4 linked regions of the Homo sapiens genome follow. The protein of the gene in region 2 interacts with the protein of the main gene of each other region in a pairwise test. Each region holds a gene or a part of one and is shown on either strand. Other genes may lie near its edges.

The links.
Region 1: the proteins of SGTA (region 2) and LSMEM2 interact in binary tests that used the Homo sapiens proteins (3 or more experiments, as listed by UniProt).
Region 3: the proteins of SGTA (region 2) and FKBP7 interact in binary tests that used the Homo sapiens proteins (3 or more experiments, as listed by UniProt).
Region 4: the proteins of SGTA (region 2) and SUOX interact in binary tests that used the Homo sapiens proteins (3 or more experiments, as listed by UniProt).

The regions. Positions count from the first base shown.
Region 1 is NC_000003.12:50,274,714-50,282,092, forward strand, and holds the start of LSMEM2 (leucine-rich single-pass membrane protein 2), read left to right. Parts: upstream 1-4,373; 5' UTR 4,374-4,400; coding exon 4,401-4,458; intron 4,459-7,379. Other genes in the region: SEMA3B (semaphorin-3B isoform 3 precursor), read left to right, coding at 130-221, 299-340, 589-746, 847-902, 992-1,131, 1,589-1,993.
Region 2 is NC_000019.10:2,759,262-2,766,288, forward strand, and holds part of SGTA (small glutamine-rich tetratricopeptide repeat-containing protein alpha), read right to left. Parts: intron 6,025-7,027; coding exon 5,925-6,024; intron 4,497-5,924; coding exon 4,392-4,496; intron 3,384-4,391; coding exon 3,245-3,383; intron 2,262-3,244; coding exon 2,199-2,261; intron 34-2,198; coding exon 1-33. UniProt on the Homo sapiens protein: Co-chaperone that binds misfolded and hydrophobic patches-containing client proteins in the cytosol. Mediates their targeting to the endoplasmic reticulum but also regulates their sorting to the proteasome when targeting fails.
Region 3 is NC_000002.12:178,468,584-178,475,610, forward strand, and holds part of FKBP7 (peptidyl-prolyl cis-trans isomerase FKBP7 isoform a precursor), read right to left. Parts: intron 5,385-7,027; exon of another isoform or gene 5,272-5,384; intron 4,560-5,271; exon of another isoform or gene 4,446-4,559; intron 2,942-4,445; exon of another isoform or gene 2,854-2,941; intron 1,203-2,853; coding exon 1,069-1,202; intron 1-1,068. UniProt on the Homo sapiens protein: PPIases accelerate the folding of proteins during protein synthesis.
Region 4 is NC_000012.12:56,000,276-56,006,052, forward strand, and holds the end of SUOX (sulfite oxidase, mitochondrial), read left to right. Parts: intron 1-1,936; 5' UTR 1,937-1,946; coding exon 1,947-1,996; intron 1,997-2,267; coding exon 2,268-2,445; intron 2,446-3,342; coding exon 3,343-4,752; 3' UTR 4,753-5,250; downstream 5,251-5,777. UniProt on the Homo sapiens protein: Catalyzes the oxidation of sulfite to sulfate, the terminal reaction in the oxidative degradation of sulfur-containing amino acids.

The sequences.
Region 1 (7,379 bases), on a different chromosome or scaffold from region 2:
ACCCACACTCTTCCAGTCCACACTCTTCACAACCCAAACATGCTGAGGGTAGACGCCTCAAAGGCGAGGAGACACTAGCCCCAGCTGTCCGGGAGCACCAATGGTCATTACCCCTTCTCATCCCTGCAGACGTTGGCACGGTGCTGAAGGTGATCTCGGTCCCCAAGGGCAGTAGGCCCAGCGCAGAGGGGCTGCTCCTGGAGGAGCTGCACGTGTTTGAGGTGAGGCCTCACCCCCAGTCGCCCGGGACCCCCCCACCCCACTAAGCCCTGACCCCGTCGCCCCTCCTCCCTCTCAGGACTCGGCCGCTGTCACCAGCATGCAAATTTCTTCCAAGAGGGTGAGTGACCAGGATGGGGGTCGGGGTGGGATGGACTGAGCTTGTGCCTGGCGCGTCCCAAGCCTCTGGCCCCTTTTGGTAGTTTGCAGTCCCGGGTTTGAGTACAGGCTCTGGCTTTGTTAGACTGTGTGACCTGAGGCGTAAGACCTCAGTGTTCCCATCTGTCGAGTGGAAGAAGGGATCCCTGACCGATGGGAGGCAGGCGTGGGGTCGCCCTCGGTCAGCCCAGAGCCCCTCGTGCCCCCTAGCACCAGCTGTACGTAGCCTCGCGGAGCGCGGTGGCCCAGATCGCGTTGCACCGCTGCGCTGCCCACGGCCGCGTCTGCACCGAATGCTGTCTGGCGCGTGACCCCTACTGCGCCTGGGACGGGGTCGCGTGCACGCGCTTCCAGCCCAGTGCCAAGAGGTGGGCGGGGTCGGGGTTGGGCCGCCGGGAGGGAGGCGAAGGGTCTTTCACTGCCCGGGGCTGAAAGAAGGGCTCACAGAAGATCGGATGTTCCCCACAGGCGGTTCCGGCGGCAAGACGTAAGGAATGGCGACCCCAGCACGTTGTGCTCCGGAGGTGAGTGCCCCAGCTGCCCCTACCCTCAGCCCCAGAAGACGCCCCACCTGCCCTGCCTTGCCTAAATCTGACTTTCTTCTCGCCCCAAGACTCGTCTCGTCCCGCGCTGCTGGAACACAAGGTGTTCGGCGTGGAGGGCAGCAGCGCCTTTCTGGAGTGTGAGCCCCGCTCGCTGCAGGCGCGCGTGGAGTGGACTTTCCAGCGCGCAGGGGTGACAGCCCACACCCAGGTGAGCCTTACTCCGCCCTCCCCGCCAGGCTCCTGTCCCACCCCCTGCATCCAGGAGAGGCCCCGCCCTACCCAACGAAGCCCCGTCCAACCAGACCCACTCCCCGCCCTGTCCAGTTTGGTCCCTCACCTGCACTCCACAAGCTGCTGAGGCCCCATTGCGTCCAACGGGGCTCCCGACCCGCCTCCCCTGAATCAAGGAGAAGACCCGCCCTCGACCCTCCCATTAAGGTCCCTGACCACCCCCCACCAAGTTCATGTAAACCCCGCCTCTTTCGGATTCTCCCTTGAAGACCACCAGCTCCCAAACACTCAGCCTTAAAATGTGCGCCTGCGGGCACCCCTTTCCCGCTCCACCTCGGCTCCCAATGACTCTTTGCTTCTTCCGTCGCGTGCTAGGGCCCGGAAGCCCTGTTCCCGGCCCGACACCCCCGCCTCACGCTGCCCTCTGCCCGCAGGTGCTGGCAGAGGAGCGCACCGAGCGCACCGCCCGGGGACTACTGCTGCGCAGGCTGCGGCGCCGGGACTCGGGCGTGTACTTGTGCGCCGCCGTCGAGCAGGGCTTTACGCAACCGCTGCGTCGCCTGTCGCTGCACGTGTTGAGTGCTACGCAGGCCGAACGACTGGCGCGGGCCGAGGAGGCTGCGCCCGCCGCGCCGCCGGGCCCCAAACTCTGGTACCGGGACTTTCTGCAGCTGGTGGAGCCGGGCGGAGGTGGCAGCGCGAACTCCCTGCGCATGTGCCGCCCGCAGCCTGCGCTGCAGTCACTGCCCCTGGAGTCGCGGAGAAAGGGCCGTAACCGGAGGACCCACGCCCCTGAGCCTCGCGCTGAGCGGGGGCCGCGCAGCGCAACGCACTGGTGACCAGACTGTCCCCACGCCGGGAACCAAGCAGGAGACGACAGGCGAGAGAGGAGCCAGACAGACCCTGAAAAGAAGGACGGGTTGGGGCCGGGCACATTGGGGGTCACCGGCCGATGGAGACACCAACCGACAGGCCCTGGCTGAGGGCAGCTGCGCGGGCTTATTTATTAACAGGATAACCCTTGAATGTAGCAGCCCCGGGAGGGCGGCACAGGTCGGGCGCAGGATTCAGCCGGAGGGAAGGGACGGGGAAGCCGAGCTCCAGAGCAACGACCAGGGCCGAGGAGGTGCCTGGAGTGCCCACCCTGGGAGACAGACCCCACCTCCTTGGGTAGTGAGCAGTGAGCAGAAAGCTGTGAACAGGCTGGGCTGCTGGAGGTGGGGCGAGGCAGGCCGACTGTACTAAAGTAACGCAATAAACGCATTATCAGCCAAAGCTGGAATGGCCCCAGCAGAAAACCCCAGTCCTCGGCCTTGCTATGTGGTCTTGGGCACCTTACTAGCGGTGTCAGGGCCCGAGTTTCTCCTGTCCAAGGTTGCCTGGTGAGGATTAAAGGTGGTTCCGGCCAGGCGCGGTGGCTCACGCCTGTAATCCCAACACTTTCGGAGGCCCAGGCGGACGGATCACGAGGTCAGGAGATGGAAACCATCCCGGCTAACACGGTGAAACCCCGTCTGTACTAAAAATACAAAAAATTAGTCGGGCGTGGTGGCGGGCGCCTGTAATCCTAGCTACTCAGGAGGCTGAGGCAGGAGAATTGCTTGAACCTGGGAGGTGGAGGTTGCAATGAGCCTAGATCTCGCCGCTGCACTCCAGCCTGGGCGACAGAGCGAGACTCCAAAAAAAAAAAAAAAAAAAAAAAAAAAGGTGGTTCCGCGTGACTGAACAGGTTCTGTAGGGCCTTTGGGAATAGTGACACGCAGGGTACATTGTGCATAATATAACTTCAGGACTAAGTGCTAGGAAGAAAATAAAACTGGACCGGGCGCAGTGGCTCACGCCTGTAATCCCAGCATTTTGGGAGGCCGAAGCAGTCGGATCATGAAGTCAGGAGTTCAAGACCAGCCTGACCAACATGGTGAAACCCTGTCTCTACTAAAAATACAAAACTTAGGTGGGTGTGATGGCACGCGCCTTTAATCCCAGCTACTCAGGAGGCTGAGGTAAGATAATTGCTTGAACCAGGGAGGCAGAGGTTGCAGTGAGCCGAGATCGCCCCACTGCACTCCAGCCTGGGCAACAGAGCGAGACTCTGTCTCAAAGAAAAGAAAACTGGGTGATGTGGAAAAGAATGTACACAGAAGGCCTCACTGAAGGGGTGGCATTTGAGTTCGCTGACAAGACGGGGCTGGCCACAGGGCTATCTGGGAGCAGAGCATTCCAGGAGGGAACAGCCACCACCAAGCCCCTGAGGTGGTAACAAGCTTGTTGACTTTGAGGAACATCAGGGAGGCCAGTGTGAGACAACGGAGTGACAGGTTTGAGGTGTGTAGGAAGTAGAGCCCACAGTCTTGCTTTGCCCCCACTGGGAAGGAAGGGCACAGGGATCCAACCACAGAGGGAAAGCTGGAAGCTGGACCACCTCCTCCTTTCAAGGTAAGCAGTGATGCGCATCCTTACACAACCTTATGGGACCTGTCTGCCCTTGTGGAGATGGGAGCAGGGGAAGACCAAAACCGTGGATTGTGCTAAATGCTCCAGATGTTGTTCTCAGTGTACACTGCCAGGGAGGAGCCACTGTTATTCCGACTTTACACATGAGCAAACTGAGTTCAGAGAGGGGAGACCCTTTACCTAAGGTTGCAAGCTTAGTAACAAATGAACCAGCCTCCAACCTAGGTCCACCCACTGGCCAGCATGGGTGCTGTTGGTGTATCTGCCCACTTGTGAAGCTATCAGAGCCCTCATGGCATTGGGATTCAGTTGTCCATCACCCTCTATAAGACACACACAACAATAGCATTGTGTGCTAGCAGGTCATGCAGTGGAGGCTGCTGTGTTTGCTGGGAGGAGAGATGACTGGGCTGTGGGTAGGAGTCTGCAGGGGTAGAGGGGTGGCCAAATAGAGATGCACAGGCTTCCTTTGTCTGTCTTGGCTGCCACATGGGGCCTTGCTGAGCCTGGAGTGGCCATTCTGGATGTATGGGGGAGGTGTGCTTCCCCTTGAAGGTCCCTGGGCACCTGGACTAGTGGAGGCAGGCTCCTGGCTGGCTCCCTCACCAGGTAGATAGTTCAGGCTGGCCCACGTGGATCACTCTGCCCCTTCCCATGGCTGAGGGCTGCCCCCTCTAAATATAGCCCAGTGGGCTGAGCTCAGGCCTATTTTAGGCCAAGGCTGGGAGGCAGCCAGGCCTTCCCTGGGCTCACAAAGGAGCCACTGCTGCATTTGTCCAGTCCTGCTACTGGATGCCATCATTGGCCCCCGACTGCCCACTGCTTGCCATGCCTGAGGAGACCCAAGAAGGTAGGAGAGGGTGACCATGAGGGAGGGCAAGGCCTCAGTCCTGTGACCTTGTGGACCATGGAGAGACCCACCCTCTGTCCCACTGACCTCACTGTCTTGAGTAGTTAGTTACCCATTTTCATGCTCCAGCTCCAGTAAAAGGACCTGCCCCCTGTGCAGGGAGGAAAAGCCTGCCATGCCTGGAGCCCCTTGTCACCTCAGGCCCTGCTTCAGTTTCCCCTGCTGGGGACATCAAGGAGGGATGGGAGAAGCTACCCAGTTAGGAGTGGGTCAACTACAGGCTGTGCTCAGGTGGGTGTGGGCATCCGGTCAGCTGCCTGGCCGGTTCAGCTCTTAAGGAAGGAAGCTGGGATTGGGGTGGGTAGTGGTTCCAGAAAGCATTTGGGTACCTGTCCCATGGACTGAAAAGTAGTTAGGCCTCTGGCCTCCCCTGACTTGGGTCTAAATATCCCCAACTGCCTAGGGTTGGGGGTCCCTTGGCCTGGTCAGACAGAGACTCAGCTAGTCAAGAGCTTGGTGGCCACTCACCTAACTGCACCACTGCATATAAGAAGTACTGATGCTCAGAGGGGCCAGGGCAGCAGGAATCTAGGAAGCTACAGGTCCAGTACTGGCCAGGACGTAGGACTGTCTGCTCCATGGCTCCATGTTATGGCCCATGACAGAGCATGGCCCAGCTAGCAAGCTCCTCTTATCACATTTTCAACTTTTTTTTTTTTTTTGAGATGGAATCTCGCTCTGTCACCCAGGCCGGAGTACAGTGGCGTGATCTCGGCTCACTGCAACCTCCGCCTCCCAGATTCAAGCAATTCTCTGCCTCAGCCTCCCAAGTAGCTGGGATTACAGGCGCCTGCCACCATGCCTAGCTAATTTTTGTATTTTTAGTAGAGACGGGGGTTCACCATCTTGGCCAGGCTGGTCTTGAACTCCTGACCTCGTAAGCCACCCACCTCAGCCTCCCAAAGTGTTGGGATTACAGGGGTGAGCCACCGCGCCTGGCCTCAACTTTTTTTTTTTTTGTCACCCAGGCTGGAGTGCAGTGGTGCGGTCTCGGCTCACTGCAACCTCTGCCTCCCAGATTCAAGCTATTCTCCTGTCTCAGGCTCCCAAGTAGCTGGGATTACAGGCATGTGCTACCATGCCCGGCTAATTTTTGTATTTTTAGTAGAGACAAGGTTTCACCGTGTTGGCCAGGCTGGTCTCAAACTCCTGACCTCAGGTGATCCACCCACCTTGGCCTCCCAAATTGTTGGGATTACAGGCGTGAGCCACTGCCAACATTTTCAACATTGCAGGAGAGGGGCCTTGCCCCTGGTAGGGGGAAATGTTTACTTTCATGCATGTGTGTGTGTAGAGAAGGGTCTCCCTGGTCTTGAACTCCTGGCCTCAACCAATCCAATCCTCCCACCTTGGCCTTTCTTTTCTTTTTTTTTTTTTTTTGAGATGGAGTCTCGCTCTGTCGCCCAGGCTGGAGTGCAGTGGCGCGATCTCAGCTCACTGCAAGCTCCGCCTTCCGGGTTCACGCCATTCTCCTGCCTCAGCCTCCTGAGTAGCTGGGACTACAGGAGCCCGCCACTACGCCTGGCTAATTTTTTGTATTTTTAGTAGAGATGGGGTTTCACTGTGTTAGCCGGCATGGTCTCGATCTTCTGACCTCGTGATCCACCCACTTCGGCCTCCCAAAGTGCTGGGATTACAGGTGTGAGCTACCGCGCCCGGCCAGCCACCTTGGCCTTTCAAAGTGCTGGGATTAGAGGCATAAGCCACTGTGCCTACCCTCTTTTGGGATCTTAACAATAACATTTACTGTGTGTTTTTCCTGTAATAAACAATTCACATTCAATTTAGAAAGTGTGAGAAAAGCACAACAAAGTACAAAGAGGGAAATTTTTTTTTTTTTTTGAGACAGAGTCTTGCTCTGTCGCCCAGGCTGGAGTGCAGTGGCACGATCTTGGCTCATTGCAAGCTCTGCCTCCCGGGTTCATGCCATTCTCCTGCCTCAGCCTCCCGAGTAGCTGGGACTACAGGCGCCAGCCACCATGCCCAGCTAATTTTTGTTTTGAATTTTTTAGTAGAGACGGGGTTTCACTGTGTTAGCCAGGATGGTCTCGATCTCCTGACCTCGTGACCTGCCCACCTCGGCCTTCCAAAGTGCTGGGATTACAGGCATGGGCCACTGCGCCCGGCCCTTTTTTTTTTTTTTTTTTCTGAGACGGAGTCTTGCTCTGTCGCCCCGGGTGGAGTGCAGTGGCACGATCTCTGCTCACTGCAACCTCTGCCTCCCAGGTTCAAGTGATTCTCCTGTCTCAGCCTCCCAAGTAGCTGGGACTACAGGCGCCTGCCACCATACCTGGCTAATTTTTAAATATTTTTGGTAGAGACGGGGTTTCACCATATTGGCCAGGCTGGTCTCAAACTCCTGACCTTGTGATCCACTTGCCTTGGCCTCCCAAAGTGCTGGGATTATAGGTGTGAGCCACTGCGCCCGGCAGCAGGGAATTTTTTTTTTTTTTTTTTTTTTTTTGGAGATAGGGTCTCACTCTGTTGCCCAGGCTGGAGTACAATGGCATGATCACAGCTCACTGCAGCCTTGACTTCCTGGACTCAAGCAACCCTCCCACCTCAGCCTCCTGAGAAGCTGGGACCACAGAAGCATGCCACCACACCAAACTAATCTTTAATTACTTTTTTGTTTTTTGAGACGAGGTCTAGCTCTGTCGCCCAGGCTGGAGTGCAGTGGCTTGAGCTTGGATCACTGCAAGCTCCGCCTCCTGGGTTCAAGCTATTCTCCTGCCTTCAGCCTCCTGAGTAGCTGGGACTACAGGCGCCCATCACCATGCCCGGCTAATTTTTTGTATTTTTAGTACAGATGGGGTTTCACCATGTTGACCAGGCTGATCTTGAACTCCTGACCTCGTGAT
Region 2 (7,027 bases):
CTGAATCTGGGGATTGTTCATTAGGTTCGAAGCCTGAAGAACAGAACAAATTTGTCAGGAAGACAAAGCTCCCAGCGCATCATTCTCTTTCATCAGACACTTTCCATCTTAACCAGCCTTGGTTCTGGACTCCAGCACGCCAACCAACAGTAAGAGCCGGGCATTCGGTCTTTCATACCCTTTTCCCTACATTTTCGCCCCCCCACCCACGAGCTGTGACCTCCACATTGTGACTTAAATCCTGTTTTGGGTTCCTGCTTCAGGAGCGATCTCGCAGCGCCACAGCGCTCTCTCACTGGCTGCTGCGGTTTTGCTGTGTGGAGGCGTTTTGGTTCTTTATTTTAGCTGCTGTCTGCTTTAGCATATTTCATTTAGCATATTTGGTTCCAGTTTTGCTCTATCAATAAATAGCACTGTGGCTGGGCGCGGTGGTTCACGCCTGGAATCCCAGCACTTTAGGAGGCCGAGGCAGGCAGATCGCTTGAGGTCAGGAGTTCGAGACCAGCCTAACCAACATGGTGAAACCCCGTCTCTACTAAAAATATGAAATTAGCCAGGTGTGGTGGTGCATGCCTGTAGTCCCAGCTACTTGGGAAACTGAGGCACAAGAATCGCCTGAACCTGGGAGGGGGAGGTTGCAGTGAGCCGAGATCACACCGCTGCACTCCAGCCTGGGTGACAGAGTGAGACTCTGTCTCAAAAAAGAAGTAAAAATAAATAAATAAATAAATAGCACTATACTGGGCACTTTCTCATGTTAACTTTCCACTTGGGATTATTCCTTTGGACCTGTTGAAAGGAGGTGGCTCAGAGGTGTGGCAAACTCTCTGTGTAAAGGGCCAGTGTGTAAATACTCTCAGCCTTTTCAGACACGGGTGCCTGACGCAACTACTCAGCTCTGCCGCCGTATCATGAAAGCCACCAGTGACACTAGGTGTATGAATGGGCATGGCTGTGTGCCAATAAAACTTTATTGGTCAGGTGTAGTGGCTCACACCTGTAATCCCAGCACTTTGGGGGGCCGAGGCGGGTGGATCACAAGGTCAGGAGTTCGAGACCAGCCTGGCAAACATGGTGAAACCCCATTTCTATTAAAAAATACCAAAATTAGCCAGGCATGGTGGTGGGCACCTGTAATCCCAGCTACTCGGGAGGCTGACGCAGGAGAATCGCTTGAACCTGGGAGGCGGAGGTTGCAGTGAGCTGAGATCACACCACTGCACTCCAACCTGGGCGACAGAGCGAGACTCCATCTCAAAAAAAAAAAAAAAAAAAAAAACCAAAAAAAACTTTATTAACAAAACCCAGCGGCGGGCCTTATTCTGCCAACCCCAGATGTCTGAAGGGAAAAGGCGTCTGTGACATGGCCAAGCTGAGAGGCCCCTTGAAAGACTGGGGCCCAGTCACCCTCCATCCCATGGTGAGGGAGAACATATTCCCCTGGCAGCTTGGCCAGCGGACGAGGGCTACAGTAAGAGGTGTGGCCTCTGCTGAATGGCACGACCCGGGCAGGGCTCCTGGCCCAGCTGGCTCATTTTTCTGACTGACAGTGAGACTGAGGGCTTTTCTCCCCGACAGCCTTAGGCGAGTCCCTGTACCCTGAGGCTGTGGGAGCCTGAAGAGTGGTCCCAGGGCACACAGACCTCCCAGGAAATGAACATGTGTGTGTGGGGGATGGCTCTCCGAGGATCCCAGTCAAGGAACTCCCTGCCAAAGGCCGTCCCTTTGGAAGCATGAGTGCCCGGGCATCGGGAGGTCCACCTGCGCCCGGCGCACCCGGCGCTCTGCTTCCCTTGCCTGAACCTTAGGAGGCAGACGCTGCTGTGTTGTGATCAGTGTCTCTGCACTGCGAGGAGGAGCCCACGCCAGGGTGGGGTGGGGGTGTGACCTCCCTGGGCTCAGCCAGGAGAGCCAGCTTTTGGTGCTCACTACTGATGGGTCTTGCTTGGGACATCAACATTGGGGACACTTTTGATTGTCGAAGCAGAGGGTGGGGGTGCTCCTGACATGGGGCGGGTGAGGCCAGGGGTGCTGCCAGCGCCCTGCGGTGCCCAGGACGACCCCACAGACAAGACCCATCTGGTTCCAGAAGCCAGCAGTGCCAAGGCAAGGAAGCCCTGGCCAGTAGCGGACACAGCAGATGCGGGCCTGGGGGGTGGCGCAGACACCATGGACAGGGAGGAGGGGCGGGCCGTTACCATGCTCATGAAGCCAGGGTTGTTCAGCAGGCCGGCGATGTCGAAGCTGCCCACGCCTCCCGTCTGAGGATGAGAACAGCCCTGGTTAGTGGGGCCTGGACCAGAGGCCACGGTGAATAACCCCCTGGAACTCAGAAACAACGGCCCCCCACGGGGCTCAGACATTCTATCAACCCTGCGGCCAGAGGGTGCTTTGAGGCAGGCAGCACGAAGCACATCGCAACCGCCCGGGGACGGCACAGTCTGTCATCCCGTGTTTATTCCCCGCACAGCGCGACCGCCCGGGGACGGCACAGTCTATCATCCCGTGTTTATTCCCCGCACAGCGCGACCGCCCGGGGACGGCACAGTCTATCATCCCGTGTTTATTCCCCGCACAGCGCGACCGCCCGGGGACGGCACAGTCTATCATCCCGTGTTTATTCCCCGTACAGCGCGACCGCCCGGGGACGGCACAGTCTATCATCCCGTGTTGATTTCCTGTATTCTGCCGCTTTGACACCTTGGGGCCTTGCTGGCCTGGCAGAGCCGCCCCCTCCTGGAGTAGCCAATTCCCAGAGAAAGCAAATGACTCACCCAGAAACGCACCTTTGAAATACAAACAAACTAACCCAGAACCCACACCCTCAGCACCTCCCCCATCACCCCAGGGCCACAGTCCACCTGCCCCACTCACCCCCAGGCCAGGGACCAGGCAACCAGGGGCAGCCCCCAGGCCTGGGTCTAATGAAATGGCTCCAACCAGCCAACCCGAAGCCTCCTCACCCGGCCTCGCCACAAAACCCACATCGAGGGTCCTTTCTGTGCCCCTCCCTCAGCCTCCGCGGGCAGCCCTGCGGCCGGCCTCCTGCTTCCAGGGGTCTGGGGGCATGAACCTTCTCACGACACTCACTTCCACGCCTGTGCATCTCACCACCAACTGAAACAAACCCCGGACCCTCACGACACCCAGGTTAAGCCTAGAGCCACTGGTGCGCCCGAGGACCTGTCCCCCACCCACACAGTCAGCTCGGCGTTCTGGAGCCACTCGCCCCCGCTGCACTCACGGGGCTGGGGGCCTCCCGCAGCTTCAGCTCCGCTATCTTGAGGTTGGACTTGTATGTCTCGTTGTCGGGGTCCAGCTCCAGAGCCTTCTTGTAGTAAGCCACGGCCTCCACGTGCTTGTTGAGGCTGGAGAGCGCCAGGCTGGAGGAGAGCACCGGGGATGGACTGTTCCCATCTGCCCAGCTCCAGGAGGCCCCGCCAAAGCCCTCGTCCCCGGCGGTCCTGGCAACCCCCAAACCACCTCGGATGGTGCCACCCCCTGCCCGCTGTCAGCTCAGTGGAGACAAACCTGGCTTTCGAGGGGCCCAGGGGCAGGACTGAGGGAGACAGACATGAGAACACCCCTGCCACACAAGAACTGGAGTCCCCATGGGGCCACACACAGGGCCTCAAAGCCCAGAGCGGGCTGAGAGGAGGGAGCGGGCCAGCTCAGGGTCACAGGAAATGCGTGGATGTTGTCTTGGCCCCGCTTCCCGGCACAGGGCACCAAGGACCCTCGGAACCTCTGAGCGACAGACATGTCTCCCGTCATCCACAAGCAGCCCCTGACCCCCACCTGAGTGAGTCTTCACTCGTGAGGTGACTCAGGGCCCCTACAGAGCCCAGGAGGAGGCGGGTCCTGGGGAGACTGGGCAGTTGAACAGGGCCCCTCCCCAGCCTCTGGGGAGACCCAATCCCACAAACTCTGAGCAAGGGCATTCAGAGAAGCAGGCGAATGCACGCTTATGCTGGGAGGGCGGCACCGGCTGCACGGGGCGCAGGCTCCTGCCCCGGGGACCCTCCTGGCCTCACTCTCGGACCTGTCCTGTGTCCTTCATCATAAACCAGGTGCTTCCCTGAGCTCTGTGAGCCGCCCCAGCAAACAATGGAGCCTGAGTAGGAGCCATGGGAACCCCAGGTGACAGCCAGTCAGGGAGAAGCAAGGGGCCCAGGGATCTCCGGGTGGCACCTGATGCGGGGCGTCTGTGGGGCTGAGCCTGTGACCTGTAGGGACTACGTTGGCTCCGAACAGCTAGTGTCAGAGTTGAACTGAACCGGGGTGGGAGAATTCGTTGTGGGTGGGAAAAAAGCCACACAAGAGAGGAAGCAGGAGCAGGAGAGGAGGGGTCCCGAGAGACTGGAAAGGCGCGGCCGTGGACAGGCACTCACCCCATCCTGCCGTAGGCCTTGCTGTAGGCCGGGTCAATGCAGATGGCCCGCTCACAGTCCTGCACCGCGCCTGCGTAGTTGCCGAGTTTGCTGTAGGCTGCGGCTCTGGGGAAGAAAAGGCAGGGCAGGTCCCTCACTGGCGGCTCTGAGCCCAGCGGGCAGCCCTTGAGGGGAGCCTGAGAGCTGCGTTCCTCTCCAACTTCCTGGAGGAACGGCCTCAGTTTTCCCCATCTGTAAAATGGGGCTGATGGGGAAAGCTGAGAGGTGTGGCCACTGAGATGCTCTTAGACAAATGTGGGCTCAAAGCACCAGCAGCCACTCAGGACTGCGACTCTGAATTTTATTTGCAAAAAATGTTCCGATCCATGGCTGTACAAGAGCAATGAGGGTAGGGAACTTATACCCAAGTTTCATTCACAAATTATTTACATATCAGTAAAAAAAGAACTCAGACCAATGTCAAAGCTCAAAGCTCTTGGCTTACAGCGTCTGAATCGTCTTCACCATTTTCGTGTTTAGTGTTTCTCTTTACAATTTTTTCAAAGTACAGAGAAGAGTGAGTGGAGACTAAACTACCCCATGACAGGCGGCCAGGAACCCTGCACTGCCTCTGCAACTGTCCTGTAAGCCTGAAGCAGATCCAAGACCACACATTCAAAAAACACAACCCTCCACATACTGGATTATTTTCTTGGCTTGACATCCACGTGGAATGCCATGATACCTGATTTTCTATGTATGTATTTATGTATTTATTATTTTTGAAACAGGGTTTTGCTCTGCTGCCCAGGCTGGAGTGCAGTGACACGATCTCAGCTCACTGCAACCTCTGCCTCCCGGGTTCAAGTGATTTTCCTGCCTCAGCCTCCCAGGTAGCTGGGACTACAGGCACCCACCACCACATCCAGCTAATTTTTGTGGTTTTTTTCGGGGTTTTTTTGAGACAGAGTCTCCCTGTCACCCAAGATGGAGGGCAGTGGCGCAATCTTGGCTCACTGCAACCTCTGCCTCCCAGGTTCAAACCATCCTCATACCTCAGCCTCTTGAGTAACTGGTGGTGCCCACCACTACACCCGGCTAATTTTGTATTTTTAGTAAAGACGGGGTTTCACCATGTTAGCCAGGCTGGTCTTGAACTCTCAACCTCAAGTGATCCCCCCCGCCTCAGCCTCCCAAAGTGCTGGAATTACAGACGTGAGCCACCGCGCCTGGCCCCCAGACTAATTTTTACATTTTCTGTAGAGACGGGGGTCTTGATATGTTGCCCAGGCTAGTCCCGAACTCCTAGCCTCAAGTGATCTTTCCCCCATGGCCTCCCAGAGTGCTGGGCGTGCTACCTGATTTTAAATCAGCATCGACTCTCCCCGACCCCGTTGCTGGTCACCTGATGCTCGCTCCTGGTCTGAGACCACCGGTGAATGGATCCCTCATCTACAGCGCAGAGGCCTCTCCCATCTCAGGTCCCTGCTAAGCATCCCGGAGGACGCCCCCGCACCCGGCCGCCCCTGCCCTGGGCAGGCCCTGAGCTGGTACCTGTTGCAGAAATAGACGGCGTTGGCTGGGTTGAGCTCGATGGCTTTTCCGTAGAAATGCACGGCAGCTTCAAAGTTTTCCACTTTCATCTGCTCGTTTCCTACAGGGAGAGAGGAAAACACCGGCCCGGTGTCCACACAGACCGGAGGGGGTGTCAGGGAGAGAGGAAAACACCGGCCTGGTGTCCACACAGACCCGAGGGGGCGTCACACTTGGCTCTTCTGGGCAGCCAGGACTCAACACAGATGCCGGCTCAGGAGGCATCTGCATCTATAGGGGGTTCGCTAGTCGCAAACAATCATATCTACATCCACTAAGGGGGATGGAGGTGGGGGCGGCAGGGCCTGGCCTGGCCTGTGCCTGGCGACGGTGGCTGTCACTGCCTGGATGGCGACCCCGGGAGCAGAACAGTTAATACAGCTCACCGGCCCGGGGACGGAAACTGTCCCTTTCGCTATTGCTTTTGGAAAGAGCCCAAGTGGAGGCCTGTATTTTGGAATACTCATGTGATACCTTCTCATTTCATAGGCAATGGGGCTTCTATCTGAGGCATGGGTCCCAGCTGGTAGGACGGTAAAAACCCCAGCTGCTATCCTAGAACTGAGAGCCCTGAAGACAGAAACCCACTCCCGCCCCCGAGATCCCAATTCAGGAGGGCGTGGGGGGAAGATGGGTATCAGCGTGTGTTTCCCTAAACAGTTTTATTGAGATATAATTTACATGCCACAAAGCTTACGCTTTAAAAATATAAGCCCGGGCGCGGTGGCTCATGCTTATAATCCCAGCACTTTGGGAGGCCGACGCAGGCGGATCGCAAGATCAGGAGACCAAGACCATCCTGGCCAACACAGTGAAACCTGTCTCTACTAGAAATACAAAAATTAGCCGGGCGTGGTGGTAGGCTTCTGTAGTCCCAGCTACTCAGAAGGCTGAGGCAGGAGAATTGCTTGAACCAGGGAGTCAGAGGTTGCAGTGAGCCGAGATCACGCCACTGCACTCCAGCCTGGGCGACAGAGCGAGACTCCATCTCAAAAAAGAAAAAAAAGAAATGGGATCACATGCTGTGCGTCCTTTTGTGTCTGGCCTCTCTCCCTGAGTGTGAT
Region 3 (7,027 bases), on a different chromosome or scaffold from region 2:
TGCACCCTGGCATGGGCAACAGAGAAAGACCCTGTCTCTAAGAAAAATTTAAAAAATTGAAATGTAAGAACAGTCATGAAGCCAGATTGCCCAGGTTTTGCCCCTTACTACTGTGTGATTTTTGGCTGATTAACCTGATTATTATTTTCCCCATCTAAAAGCGAAGATGATGACAATAGTGTCTGCCCCATAAACTATCATGAAGATTACATAAGTTCACATACTTATGTGCTTATAAATAGTACCTGGTACTAAAAGTATAAAATAAATGTTATCTATTATTATCTTTTTTTTTTTTTTGGAGGCAAGGTCTCAGTCTATCTTCCAGGCTGGAGTGCAGTGGCATGATCACAGCTCACTGCAGCCCCAACCTCCTGGGCTCAAGCGATCCTCCTACCTCTCAGCCTCCTGAGTAGCTGGGACCACAGGTATGCACCACCATGCCTGGCTAATTTATTAAATCTTTTGTAGAGACGGGGGTCTCCCTGTGTTGCCCAGGCTGGTCTTGAACTCCTGGGCTCAAGCAATCCTCCCACCTCGGCCTCTCAAAGTGTTGAGATTATAGGCATGAGCCACATGCCCAGCCCAATTATCATTATTATTACAAGATCTTTATTACAAGGCTGAGATACAGACGCTAGCTGGCTGAACTTCTGGCTCCTGTTTACCAACTTTCTAGCCCACTCAATTCAGACCCTTGCTAGCTCTTTTCATCATCCTATGAGGCGTGAATTATTTGCCCTGTTGCAAATTCTTACAGTGCTGTCTGAAAAAGAGATATGCTAGTGTAATCTAGAAACTGGAAGAGCACTGTAGAGACAAATAATTCGGGATTTTAATGACTCTCTTGCAGGGAGAAAGGCAATTGAACAGGATGACTCACAAGGTTTATACTGAAAAAGCTTAGAGCTTTTTCTAAGCGCTTAGATTATTTTTTAGTGACCAGCTCTATAAAAGCAGTGATCAGAGCCCATGCTAGCTAGACCTAAAAAGTAATAGTTGTAACACAGATGTATTTAAACTGTGATAAAAAAATTAGACTATACACATGAAATTGGTTTGAATTACCTCGGCTTTAGAGAGCTGCCTGTCATTGTCCATGTCTATTTGTTTAAATGTCTCAATGCTCCGTGGTCCTTTGGTCACAGCATAAAGTTCAATCTCAAAAATCAATGTAGCATCCGGTGGAATCTTGCCTTCTGCTAAGGGTATAAATTTTAACAGTTTAACTTATGTAAAGATATAGTTCAAATATCTATTCATGAACTGCCATAACCATATTATATTATTTCATGTTGATAAGAATTGCTATCTGAATACTCACAATTTTTAATTTTTTCTCATCTTTTATAACTTTTTTCGGCTTTTCAATAGTTTTCTTTTTTGTTTTTTTTTCTCTTTTTTTTATAAATACTTTTTTAGGAATATTTTTTCCATATGTTTCCAAACCAAGTCAATTCAAAGGACCTATGGGACCACTATTTCTTGATTAATTTAAGTAAAAATCATAAACTTTTTATTAATGCATGGATATGACCCTCTATATCTGTGGGTTCTGCATCTGTGGATTCAACCAGTCTCGGCTTGAAAATATTCATACAAAAAAAGGATAGTTGTGTCTGTAATAAACATGTACAGACTTTTGTCTTGTCATTATTCCCTAACCAATACAATATAACAATCTTTTACATAACATTTACATTGTATTAGATATTATAAGTAATCTAGAGATAATTTAAAGTACACCGGAAGATGTCCAGAGGTTATGTGCAAATGTGATGCCATTTTGTATCAGGGGCTTGAGCTTCTGTGGATTTTGGAATCCATGAGAAGGTCTTGGAACCAATCTCTAACAGGTACTGAGAGACAACTGTACTCTCCTATCATCAACACAGAAGAGAGGTGGCACAGAGAAGAAATGCATGGGCAGAAAAATTGCAAAGCATAGATGAGTCATCTTTTAGAAAGTGATTTTGTGTAGTTATTTGGAAGCATAAATAAAACATAAGTATTAATATATTTGTCTTTCAAATTTTTTATAGACATTAAAAAATAAGTGCAATGATAGAAAAATCCAGTAACAGGCTGGGCACAGTGGCTCACACGTGTAATTCTAGCACTCTGGGAGACCGAGACAGGAGGATCACTTGAGCCCAGGAGTTTGAGACCAAACTGGGCAACATAGTGAGACCCTGTCTCTATTAAAAAAAAAAAGAATTAAAATAAAAATTCAGTAACAATTTTACAAAGAAATTGTATACATTTTTAAGCAATAAGTTGAATACCTATTTTTATTTTTATTTATTTTTTTTGAGACGGCGTCTCACTCTGTTTCCCAGGCTGGAGTGCAGTGGTGCAATCTCCGCTTACTGCAGCCTCTGCCTCTTGGGTTCAAGCCATTCTCCTACCTCAGCCTCCTGAGTACCTGGGATTACAGGTGCACACCAGGCATTGCATTATTAGTAGAGATGGGGTTTCACTATGTTGGCCAGGCTAGTCTTGAACTCCTGACCTCAGGTGATCCGCTTGCCTTGGCCTCCCTAAGTGCTAGGATTACAGATGTGAGCCACTGTGCCTGGCCAGAATTGCTCTCTTTAATTAAGTTAACCTATTAGCTGATGTCACAGATTTTTTTTTTTTTTTTAGACAAGAATCTTCCTCTGTCACCCAGGCTGGAGTGCAATGGCACGATCTCGGCTCACTGTAACCTCTGCCTCCCAGGTTCAAGCAATTCTCCTGCCTCAGCCTCCCGAGCAGCTGGGATTACAGGTGCCTGCCACCAATCCTGGCTAATTTTTTATACTTTATTAATAGAGATGGGGTTTCACCATGTTGGCCAGGCTGGTCTCAAACTCCTGACCTCAAAGGATCCACCCACCTTGGCCTCCCAAAGTGCTGGGATTACAGGCGTGAGTCACCGTGCCAGGCCATGATGTCACAGGTGATTTTAATAAGTGATGGGCTATTTCAGATAAATATGTCATAAAAGTGACTTGCAAAAATGACTTGCTAAGGGGCAGCGGGTAGCTTGTGTCATCAGTATATTGCCAGTGTCCTACACAGTGCCTAATCTACTACAGGCAGTCCAATATTTGCCGAATGAATGACCCATATCATTTATTTTTAAAATGTTTGTCCTTGGAAGGAAACAGCAATTTCTTTAATAAAAAAGTGAAGCATTCTAGCTAAAGTCTTTATATAGTCTGAAGAGAAAAGAGTTTGTGAGTTATAGCCAAAAGGAGTAGCAGATTAGTAGTTTTCAAAGAGAAAACATAGAAAGATCTACCCATGCATCATATGACTAACATAAAAGTCCTAACCTAATGCACCACATATTACCTGACTTTAGAGTAGAAGAGCTAGAGATTGAGTCAATGATTGTTTTATAAAACCCATTCCTATTTTTTCCAGTTATCTCCTTATGACAGAATTATTGTCTCCTGACAATAATTCAAGGCAAACTCAAAACACAAATTCAAATTTCTTTTCTTTTCGTTTTTTTTTTTTTTTGAGACAGAATCTGTTCTGTTGCCCAGGCTGTAGTGCAGTGTCGCGATCTTGGCTCACTGCAACCTCCACCTCCCGAGTTCAAGTGATTCTTGTGTTTCAGCCTCCCAAGTAGCTGGGATTACAGGCACAAGCCACCACACCCAGCTATTTTTTGTATTTTTAGTAGATACGGGGTTTCACTATGTTGGCCAGGCTGGTCTTGAACTCCTAGCCTCAGGTGAGCCACCCACCTCGGCCTCCCAAAGTGCTAGGATTACAGCTATACGCCACTGTGCCCAGCCCAAAACTTGAATTTCTTAAGAAAAAATATTGTAGGTACATATGCAGTTTTTGAACAATTTTGCTATAAACATAGAAAATATTGGCCGGGCGCAGTGGCTTATACCACTTTTTTTTTTTAGACAAGAATCTTCCTCTGTCACCCAGGCTAGAGTGCAATGGCGCGATCTCGGCTCACTGTAACCTCTGCCTCCCAGGTTCAAGCAATTCTTATTTGGCTTATACCACTGCGCCTGGCCAGGAGGGCGAGATCAGCCTGGCTGGCCAGGAGTTCGAGACCAGCCTGGCCAACATGGCGAAACCCCATCTCTACTAAAAATACAAAAATTAGCCAGGCATGGTGGCGTGTGCCTGTAATCCCAGCTCCTCGGAGGCTGAGGCAGGAGAATAGCTTGAACCCGGGAGGCAGAGGCTGCAGTGAGCCAAGATCAATCACACCACTGCGCTCCAATCTGGGTGACAGAGCAAGACTCCATCTCAAAAAAAAAAAAAAAAAAAAGGATATATTGCCAATTACCTCTTTTTCTTGTTTTTTTTTTTTTTTTAAAAAAAACTAAAGTATAAAAATGAGGAAAATATGCATTTGCTACGGAATTACTTATATTTAGAGAAGCAGATCAAAGAAGTAGGAATTAAGGTAAAGAATATATACATACCGCATGTATTGTTATTTAAGCACTAACAAGTCACATGCATTTCAAGACATGCAGGGTTGTTCTGTGACATGAGACAAGGATATTTTGCAGAAGAAAGACTTCTTCAAGTACTACCTAAAATAAAGTTATAGCTAATGTTAGGTCTTAATAACAACTTACTTTTAAATGCTTATTTAATCAAGAGGTTGTTTGTTAAACAGTTACTTAAGGTCTACACTGCAACTTTTAAAATAATGTAATCCAAGGTATTGGATTACAATGCCTAATGTAACGCAGGCAAGGTCAGTATTAACTATGGTCCAATTAACACTTTTTTTGGGCCTCAGTTTCTTACTCTGTAAAATGAGGGTGCTGGTGGTATTACTAGTGAGATTAATCACTTTAATGTTTGTTAGAGATACCTCCAATTGAATATGAACTTGTTTCACATCAAACTTCTATATCTCTGCAGCAAGTTTCTGATTTATTAAGAGCTTAGGCAGCCTGGGTAGTCATTCATATCTAAGCATAAATTAGTTTATGAAAAAGATAAGCTAAGTGGTCCTTTGCCTGATGGCGGTGAACCCTGGATGAGCACCTGATGATGACAGATGTGTGTGCTCTAGGCAGATAGGAGAGTGGGTGCTCTAGTGGTAGGCAGAATGTGGAGGCATCTGAAGACACAACGCAAGACAGAAAGGAAAACTTTGAAAATGAGAAAGAGACTGAAAGGCAAACTCTGCCTCCAACATTTTGCCTAGAAGTGGCCTCAACTTTTGACAACATTTTTAGCACAAGTATTGCATTTGACTTAATTTATTTTCAATTTTCCTTCTCTTTCTCCTAGGTTCCTATACAAATAAAAACAGGATATATGAATTATGGTACCATGGGAGCTGTTCTGATGGGATCAAATTATTGGCAAAAAGCATTAAAAATAAAGCTGAAGTTATCTGGAAATTGTCTCTTTAGGAGTTTTAAGCCTGACTGGGTCTGACTCAAAGCACTGACACCCCCCCACCACCCGCCAATCCAGTGTGGGGCACTGATGCCCCGATTTTGCTGGAAAGAACTCTTAATGACTAAGACAACTGCCTCAAAGAAGGCATGCCACTTCCATGAAATATTTGGGAGCAATGCCAATATCTCATTGTGGAAAATTAATCTTTACTATTTCAAACCGGTGGAGTCAGCAGTGGCTCTAAATAGGGTAAGGAGGCAAAGATTCTTTCTGTATAGCCTTCAAGCAGCAACACGGAGCAAGAACCTAACTAAGGATGCAAGGTACAGCCTATCAGGCTGCCCATCCTCCTGCCTGCTTTAAAAATTTTCTTCTCTGTTCTGCTACATGCAATTTTTGTAATTTAAAATTTTAATTTTGGAAAAATTAATACATGCCTTATAAAACTTTCAAATGGTACAAAATGTTAGAGTGAAAAGAAATCTTCTCATCCTTGACCCTGAGGCCTCCTTCCCAGGAACACTTAATGTCATCAGATGACTGCATATTCTTCCAGATGTATTCTGTGTAGATACATGCATATGTGAAACTCCTCCTCTGAAATGAAAGCTCATAGAGGATTGGGAGTAGTGTCTACTTTGGTCACTGCTTTATGCCCAGTGCCTAGAACAAAGCCTGGCACTGATGCTCAATATATATCCCAAAAGTGGAATATAGTCTTGTCCACTTTTTTTTTTGAGCCAGGGTCTTGCTGTGTTGCCCAGATTGGAGTGCAGTGGCACAATCACAGCTCACCGCAGCCTCGACCTCCCAGGCTCCAGGGATCCTCCCATCTCAGCCCCCTGAGTAGTTGGGACCACAGGCGGATACCGCCACGCCTGGCTAACTTTTTAATTTTCTGTAGAGATTGTGTCTCCCTACATTGCCCAGGCTGCTTTCAGACTCCTGGGCTCAAGTGATCCTCCCACCTTAGCCTCTCAAAGTGCTGGGATTATAGGCATGAAGCCACCATGCCTGGCCTCCACTTTATTTTTAACATATTAATAAGTATAGCTCTACTTCATTCTTTTTACTGGTTACACAGTAATTCATTGTATAGATATACTATAATTTATTTAACTAATTTCCTATTGATGGATAGGCAGGTGGTTTCCAACCTTTTGCCACCCTCCCACCCAAAAATGCCTGCAGTGAATGTTCTTTTACATATACCTTTGTGCACATTCCTGGAAATGGAACTATTGGATAAGAAGGCACGTGCATTTTCACTTTTTTTTTTGAGATGGAGTCTCGCTCTGTTGCCCAGGCTGGAGTGCAGTGGCGCAATCTTGGCTCACTGCAACCTCTGCCTCCCAGGTTCGAGCGATTCTCCTGCCTCAGCCTCCCAAGTAGCTGGGATTACAGGCACACTCTACCACACCCAGCTAATTTTTGTATTTTTAGTGGAGACGGGGTTTCACCATATTGGCCAGACTGGTCTCGAACTCCTGACCTGAAGTGATCTGCCCACTTCAGCCTCCCAAAGTGCTGGAATTACAGGCATGAGCCACCACACCCGGGCCTGCATTTTCACTTTTGATAACAGTTGATAGAGAAGTTGAATGATTTCCATTCCCAGCAATAATGCTGGTTTTTCCATGCT
Region 4 (5,777 bases), on a different chromosome or scaffold from region 2:
CGAGCCCTGCCCCGCGGGGAGGCAGCTAAGGCCCGGCGAGAAATCGAGCGCAGCGCTGGTGGGCCGGCACTGCTGGGGGACCCAGTACACCCTCCGCAGCTGCTGGCCCAGGTGGTAAGCCCCTCATTGCCCGGGGCCGGCAGGGCCAGCCGGCTGCTCCGTGTGCGGGGCCTGCCAAGCCCACGCCCACCCGGAACTCCAGCTGGCCCGCAAGCTCCGCGCTCAGCCCCGGTTCCCGCTCGCACCTCTCCCTCCACACCTCCCTGCAAGCTGAGGGAGCCGACTCTGGCCTTGGCCAGCCCAGAAAGGGGCTCCCACAGTGCAGCGGCGAGCTGAAGGGCTCCTCAAGTGCCGCCAAAGTGGGAGCCCAGGCAGAGGAGGCACCGAGAGTGAGCAAGGGCTGTGAGGACTGCCAGCACAATGTCACTTCTCACTAGGATTATAAGGGTGAGCCACCACACCCAGCTCTTTTATTACAGTATAATGTTATAATTTTTTTCTTTTTCTTTGTTTTTTTTTTGAGACGTTTGAGACGGAGTCTCACTCTGTCGCCCAGGCTGGAGTGCAGTGGCGCGATCTCGGCTCACTGCAACCTCCGCCTCCTGGGTTCACGCCATTCTCCTGTCTCCGGAGTAGCAGGGACTACAGGCGCCCGCCGCCAAGCCCGGCTAATTTTTTTTTTTCTATTTTTAGTAGAGATGAGGTTTCGCCGCGTTAGCCAGGATGGTTTCGATCTCCTGACATCGTGATCTGCCCGTCTCAGCCTCCCAAAGTGCTGGGATTACAGGCGTAAGCCACTGCGCCGGGCTAATTTTTCTATTTTGTTATTGTTGTTAATCTCTCTTTTTTTTTTTTTTTTTTTTTTTTGAGATGGAGTCTCTCTCTGTTGCCCAGACTGGAGAGCAGTGGCGTGATCTCAGCTCACTGCAACCTCCACCTCCCAGGTTCAGGTGATTCTCCTGCCTCAGCCTCCCGAGTAGCTGGGGTTACAGGCACGTGTCACCATGCCTGGCTTATTTTTGAATTTTTGTAGAGACAGGTTTTCCCCATTTTGGCCAGGCTGGTCTCAAACTCCTGACCTCAGGTGATTTGCCCGCCTCAGCCTCCCAAAGTGCTGGGATTACAGACGTGAGCCACTGCGCCGGGCATTGTTGTTAATCTCTTACTGTGGGTAATTTAGTAATTAAACTATAAGAGGTATGTATGTATGGGGGAAAAAACAGTAATATAGGGTTTGGTGCAATCTGTGGTTTCAAACATCTACTGGGGGTCGTAGAACATATCCCCAGTGGATAAGGGGGTACTACTGTACTTGTTGGCTCTTCATGTTAGCTCTGCTAGGCAGATGTCATTTCAGAGATGAGGAAGCAAGTTCAGAACGGCTTGGAATCTTGCTCAGGAAATCGGGCTGGTTAATGAATAACAAGAGATCCAGTTTCACAAACCCAAGGCATTTTGCCCCCAGAATCTGGGCTTCTTCACCCATTTAGGCTGTCACTACTTTTTTTTCACTTTTTTATCCCTGTTTAAGTCAGTCTGACCCACAGTTGTCCTCTGCTGACTTCAGAAATAATAATCTGGCCAGTAGACATTTGGTTTCGGTCCTTTAGGCCCTTCGCCCCAGGCATCGTTCTCTATGGTGGACAAAGTTCAGAATGGAAGATGGGAGAAAGGTGATTCTGATTCTAGAAGCACCCATCCCTCCTACCCCATTCCCCACCCGCATTACCTGCCATCCTGTCAGCACAGTCTGTCTCTGAAGTGCTCCAAGTTTTCTCTAAGGGCCCATTTGGACTCCCACTCTCAAGACTCCTCACTTGCCCAGAAAGCTCCTTGCTGACCTTCTCTGTGTCTTCCTCTCACCCATTCCCTTAGGCCTCCCTAATATCCCCTCCCAGGGTCTCCCTATCTTGATCCCAGAATCTTCCTTCTACAGGTCTGCTACAATGCTGCTGCTGCACAGAGCTGTGGTCCTCAGGCTCCAACAGGCCTGCAGGTAGGCCAGCCCATCCCAGGACTTGCCTCCTAGCCCCTATCTGCCACCCTTAGTGTCTTTTACAATGTCATACCTTGCAAATAAGACAGTTGAGAGAGTGTGTCCAGGGAGGACAGAGAAAGCCAGATCCCACTTTTCCCACCTATCCCTGGAGAAACTAAGTTCCAACTTAAGGAACCAATGGCCAACCAGGGAGAAAGAAGTAGACCCCAAGCCTTCACTAGCCCTTTCACATGACCATACGTGCTACTAAGACCGACCTCTCTTCCAGACTCAAGTCAATCCCCTCAAGGATCTGCATTCAGGCCTGCTCCACAAATGATTCATTTCAGCCCCAGCGCCCCAGCCTCACCTTCTCTGGTGATAACTCCAGCACCCAGGGATGGAGAGTCATGGGGACCCTATTAGGTCTCGGTGCAGTGTTGGCCTATCAGGACCATCGGTGTAGGGTAAGTAGGGAAAGTGCTTCATTGTCAGAACAGACTGGGTGCAGTGGCTCACGCCTGTTATCCCAGCACTATAGGAGGCCAAGGTGGGTGGGTCACTTGAGGTTAGGAGTTTGAGACCAGCCTGGGCAACATGGCAAAACCCCATCTCTAGTAAAAATTAGCCAGGTGTGGTGGTACATACCTGTAATCTCAGCTACTTGAGAGGCTGAGACACAAGAATCACTTAAACCCAGGAGGCTAAGTCTGCAGTGAGCCAAGATCAAGATCAGGCCACTGCTCTCCAGCCTGGGTGACAGAGTGAGACTCCATCTCAAAAAAAAAAAAAAAATTGTCAGAATAAAGGAATCAGTCCTAGTAAACTCCACAGGCAACCCAGGCTGTGACCCATGTTCTTGTAGTTACCACAGAGTTCACAGTGACGCAGTCTTCATGCACAGTGGAGATGAAATCTGCTAATCTGCTACCTTCGCTTCCCAGTGGCCAACACCGTGGGTTGGGTCAGGGTGAGCTCAAGTGATTTCTTCTTATTCTTCTTCATTTTTTCTTTTTTTTTTTTTTGAGATGGAGTTTCACTCTTGTTGCCCAGGCTGGAGTGCAATGGCATGATCTCAGCTCACCACAACCTCCACCTCCCGGGTTCAAGTGATTCTCCTGCCTCAGCCTCCCAAGTAGCTGGGATTACAGGCATGCACCACCATGCCCAGCTAATTTTGTATTTTTAGTAGAGACAGGGCTTCTCCATGTTGGTCAAGCTGGTCTTGAACTCCCGACCTTATGTGATCCGCCCACCTCGGCCTCCCAAAGTGCTGGGATTACAGTTGTGAGTCACCACGCCCGACCAAGTGATTTCTTCTTAATAGTCTCTTCCCTTTTATCTTACTCCTTCCCTGCCAATAGGCTGCTCAGGAGTCAACACACATATACACTAAGGAGGAAGTGAGTTCCCACACCAGCCCTGAGACTGGGATCTGGGTGACTCTGGGCTCTGAGGTCTTTGATGTCACAGAATTTGTGGACCTACATCCAGGGGGGCCTTCAAAGCTGATGCTAGCAGCTGGGGGTCCCCTAGAGCCCTTCTGGGCCCTCTATGCTGTTCACAACCAGTCCCATGTGCGTGAGTTACTGGCTCAGTACAAGATTGGGGAGCTGAATCCTGAAGACAAGGTAGCCCCCACCGTGGAGACCTCTGACCCTTATGCTGATGATCCTGTACGTCACCCAGCCCTGAAGGTCAACAGCCAGCGGCCCTTTAATGCAGAGCCTCCCCCTGAGCTGCTGACAGAAAACTACATCACACCCAACCCTATCTTCTTCACCCGGAACCATCTGCCTGTACCTAACCTGGATCCAGACACCTATCGCTTACACGTAGTAGGAGCACCTGGGGGTCAGTCACTGTCTCTTTCCCTGGATGACTTGCACAACTTTCCCAGGTACGAGATCACAGTCACTCTGCAGTGTGCCGGCAACCGACGCTCTGAGATGACTCAGGTCAAAGAAGTAAAAGGTCTGGAGTGGAGAACAGGAGCCATCAGCACTGCACGCTGGGCTGGGGCACGGCTCTGTGATGTGTTAGCCCAGGCTGGCCACCAACTCTGTGAAACTGAGGCCCACGTCTGCTTTGAGGGACTGGACTCAGACCCTACTGGGACTGCCTATGGAGCATCCATCCCTCTGGCTCGGGCCATGGACCCTGAAGCTGAGGTCCTGCTGGCATATGAGATGAATGGGCAGCCTCTGCCACGTGACCACGGCTTCCCTGTGCGTGTGGTGGTTCCTGGAGTGGTGGGTGCCCGCCATGTCAAATGGCTGGGCAGAGTGAGTGTGCAGCCAGAGGAAAGTTACAGCCACTGGCAACGGCGGGATTACAAAGGCTTCTCTCCATCTGTGGACTGGGAGACTGTAGATTTTGACTCTGCTCCATCCATTCAGGAACTTCCTGTCCAGTCGGCCATCACAGAGCCCCGGGATGGAGAGACTGTAGAATCAGGGGAGGTGACCATCAAGGGCTATGCATGGAGTGGTGGTGGCAGGGCTGTGATCCGGGTGGATGTGTCTCTGGATGGGGGCCTAACCTGGCAGGTGGCTAAGCTGGATGGAGAGGAACAGCGCCCCAGGAAGGCCTGGGCATGGCGTCTGTGGCAGTTGAAAGCCCCTGTGCCAGCTGGACAAAAGGAACTGAACATTGTTTGTAAGGCTGTGGATGATGGTTACAATGTGCAGCCAGACACCGTGGCCCCAATCTGGAACCTGCGAGGTGTTCTCAGCAATGCCTGGCATCGTGTCCATGTCTATGTCTCCCCATGAGCATGGAAAGGAGCCACCTCCACCCCTTTCCCCACCCATTAGCCTCACTGCTTCAGAAAAATCTTTCCCACCTTTCAACTTCTTGGATCACAACTCTGGCCTTCCTAAGCCATACCCAAGTACACATATAGCACATTTCACCCAAGGACCTTCCCTCTTTGGACACTATGTTACATACCCCTCTTGGCCTTTGAACCTGTGCCAGGAAGTGTGAGCTGTTACAGCAAGGGGCTAGAAGTGAAAAAAGTAATTCTGGAGACAAGCACTATTTTCTCTTCCTACCCCACCTCCATTTCTAATGCCTACTGCCATCAAGGCCTTGTTTTGCTTTTCTTTTTGGATTGTTCAGAGAAATGTGTGTGGCATGTGTAAGAAAAGTGTATATACTATCTTATACTACCTCTCCAGGTTGCCAGAGAGTTGCGAGGAGAGCAAGGGGCACAACCGTCTCCCTTTATAGTTCTACTTTTCTAATAAATAGTCTGTTTAAGATCATAACTCTTGGGCCTGGGGAGTGAGCCTATTGCAGGAGGAAGGATGCATTTGTACTGGGATGTATAATGAGATTAGACCAAAACAAACAAAACTGGGGAGGAAGACAGAGAGGAAGTAGGCTTGTAGGTTAAGAAGTAGGGCTTCCGGCTGAGCACAGTGGCTCACGCCTGTAATCCCAGCACTTGGGAGGCCAAGGCAGGTGGATCACTTGAGGTCAGGAGTTCGAGACCAGCCTGGCCAACATGGCAAAACCCAGTCTCTACCAAAAATACAAAAATTAGCTGGGTGTGGTGGTGGGTGCCTGTAATCCCAGCTACTTGGGAGGCTGAGGCAGGAGAATCGCTTGAACCAAGGAGGCAGAGGTTGCAGTGAGCCGAGATCACACCCACTACACCCCAGCCTGTGCGACAAAGCGAGATTCTGTCTCAAAAAAAGGGGGGCTTCCTTCTCTGAGGTTTGGCAGTATCTGCAGGGACACCTAGGTGATTGACCTCAGGATACCATGAAGAGAGGAGAGGTGACAAAAACAT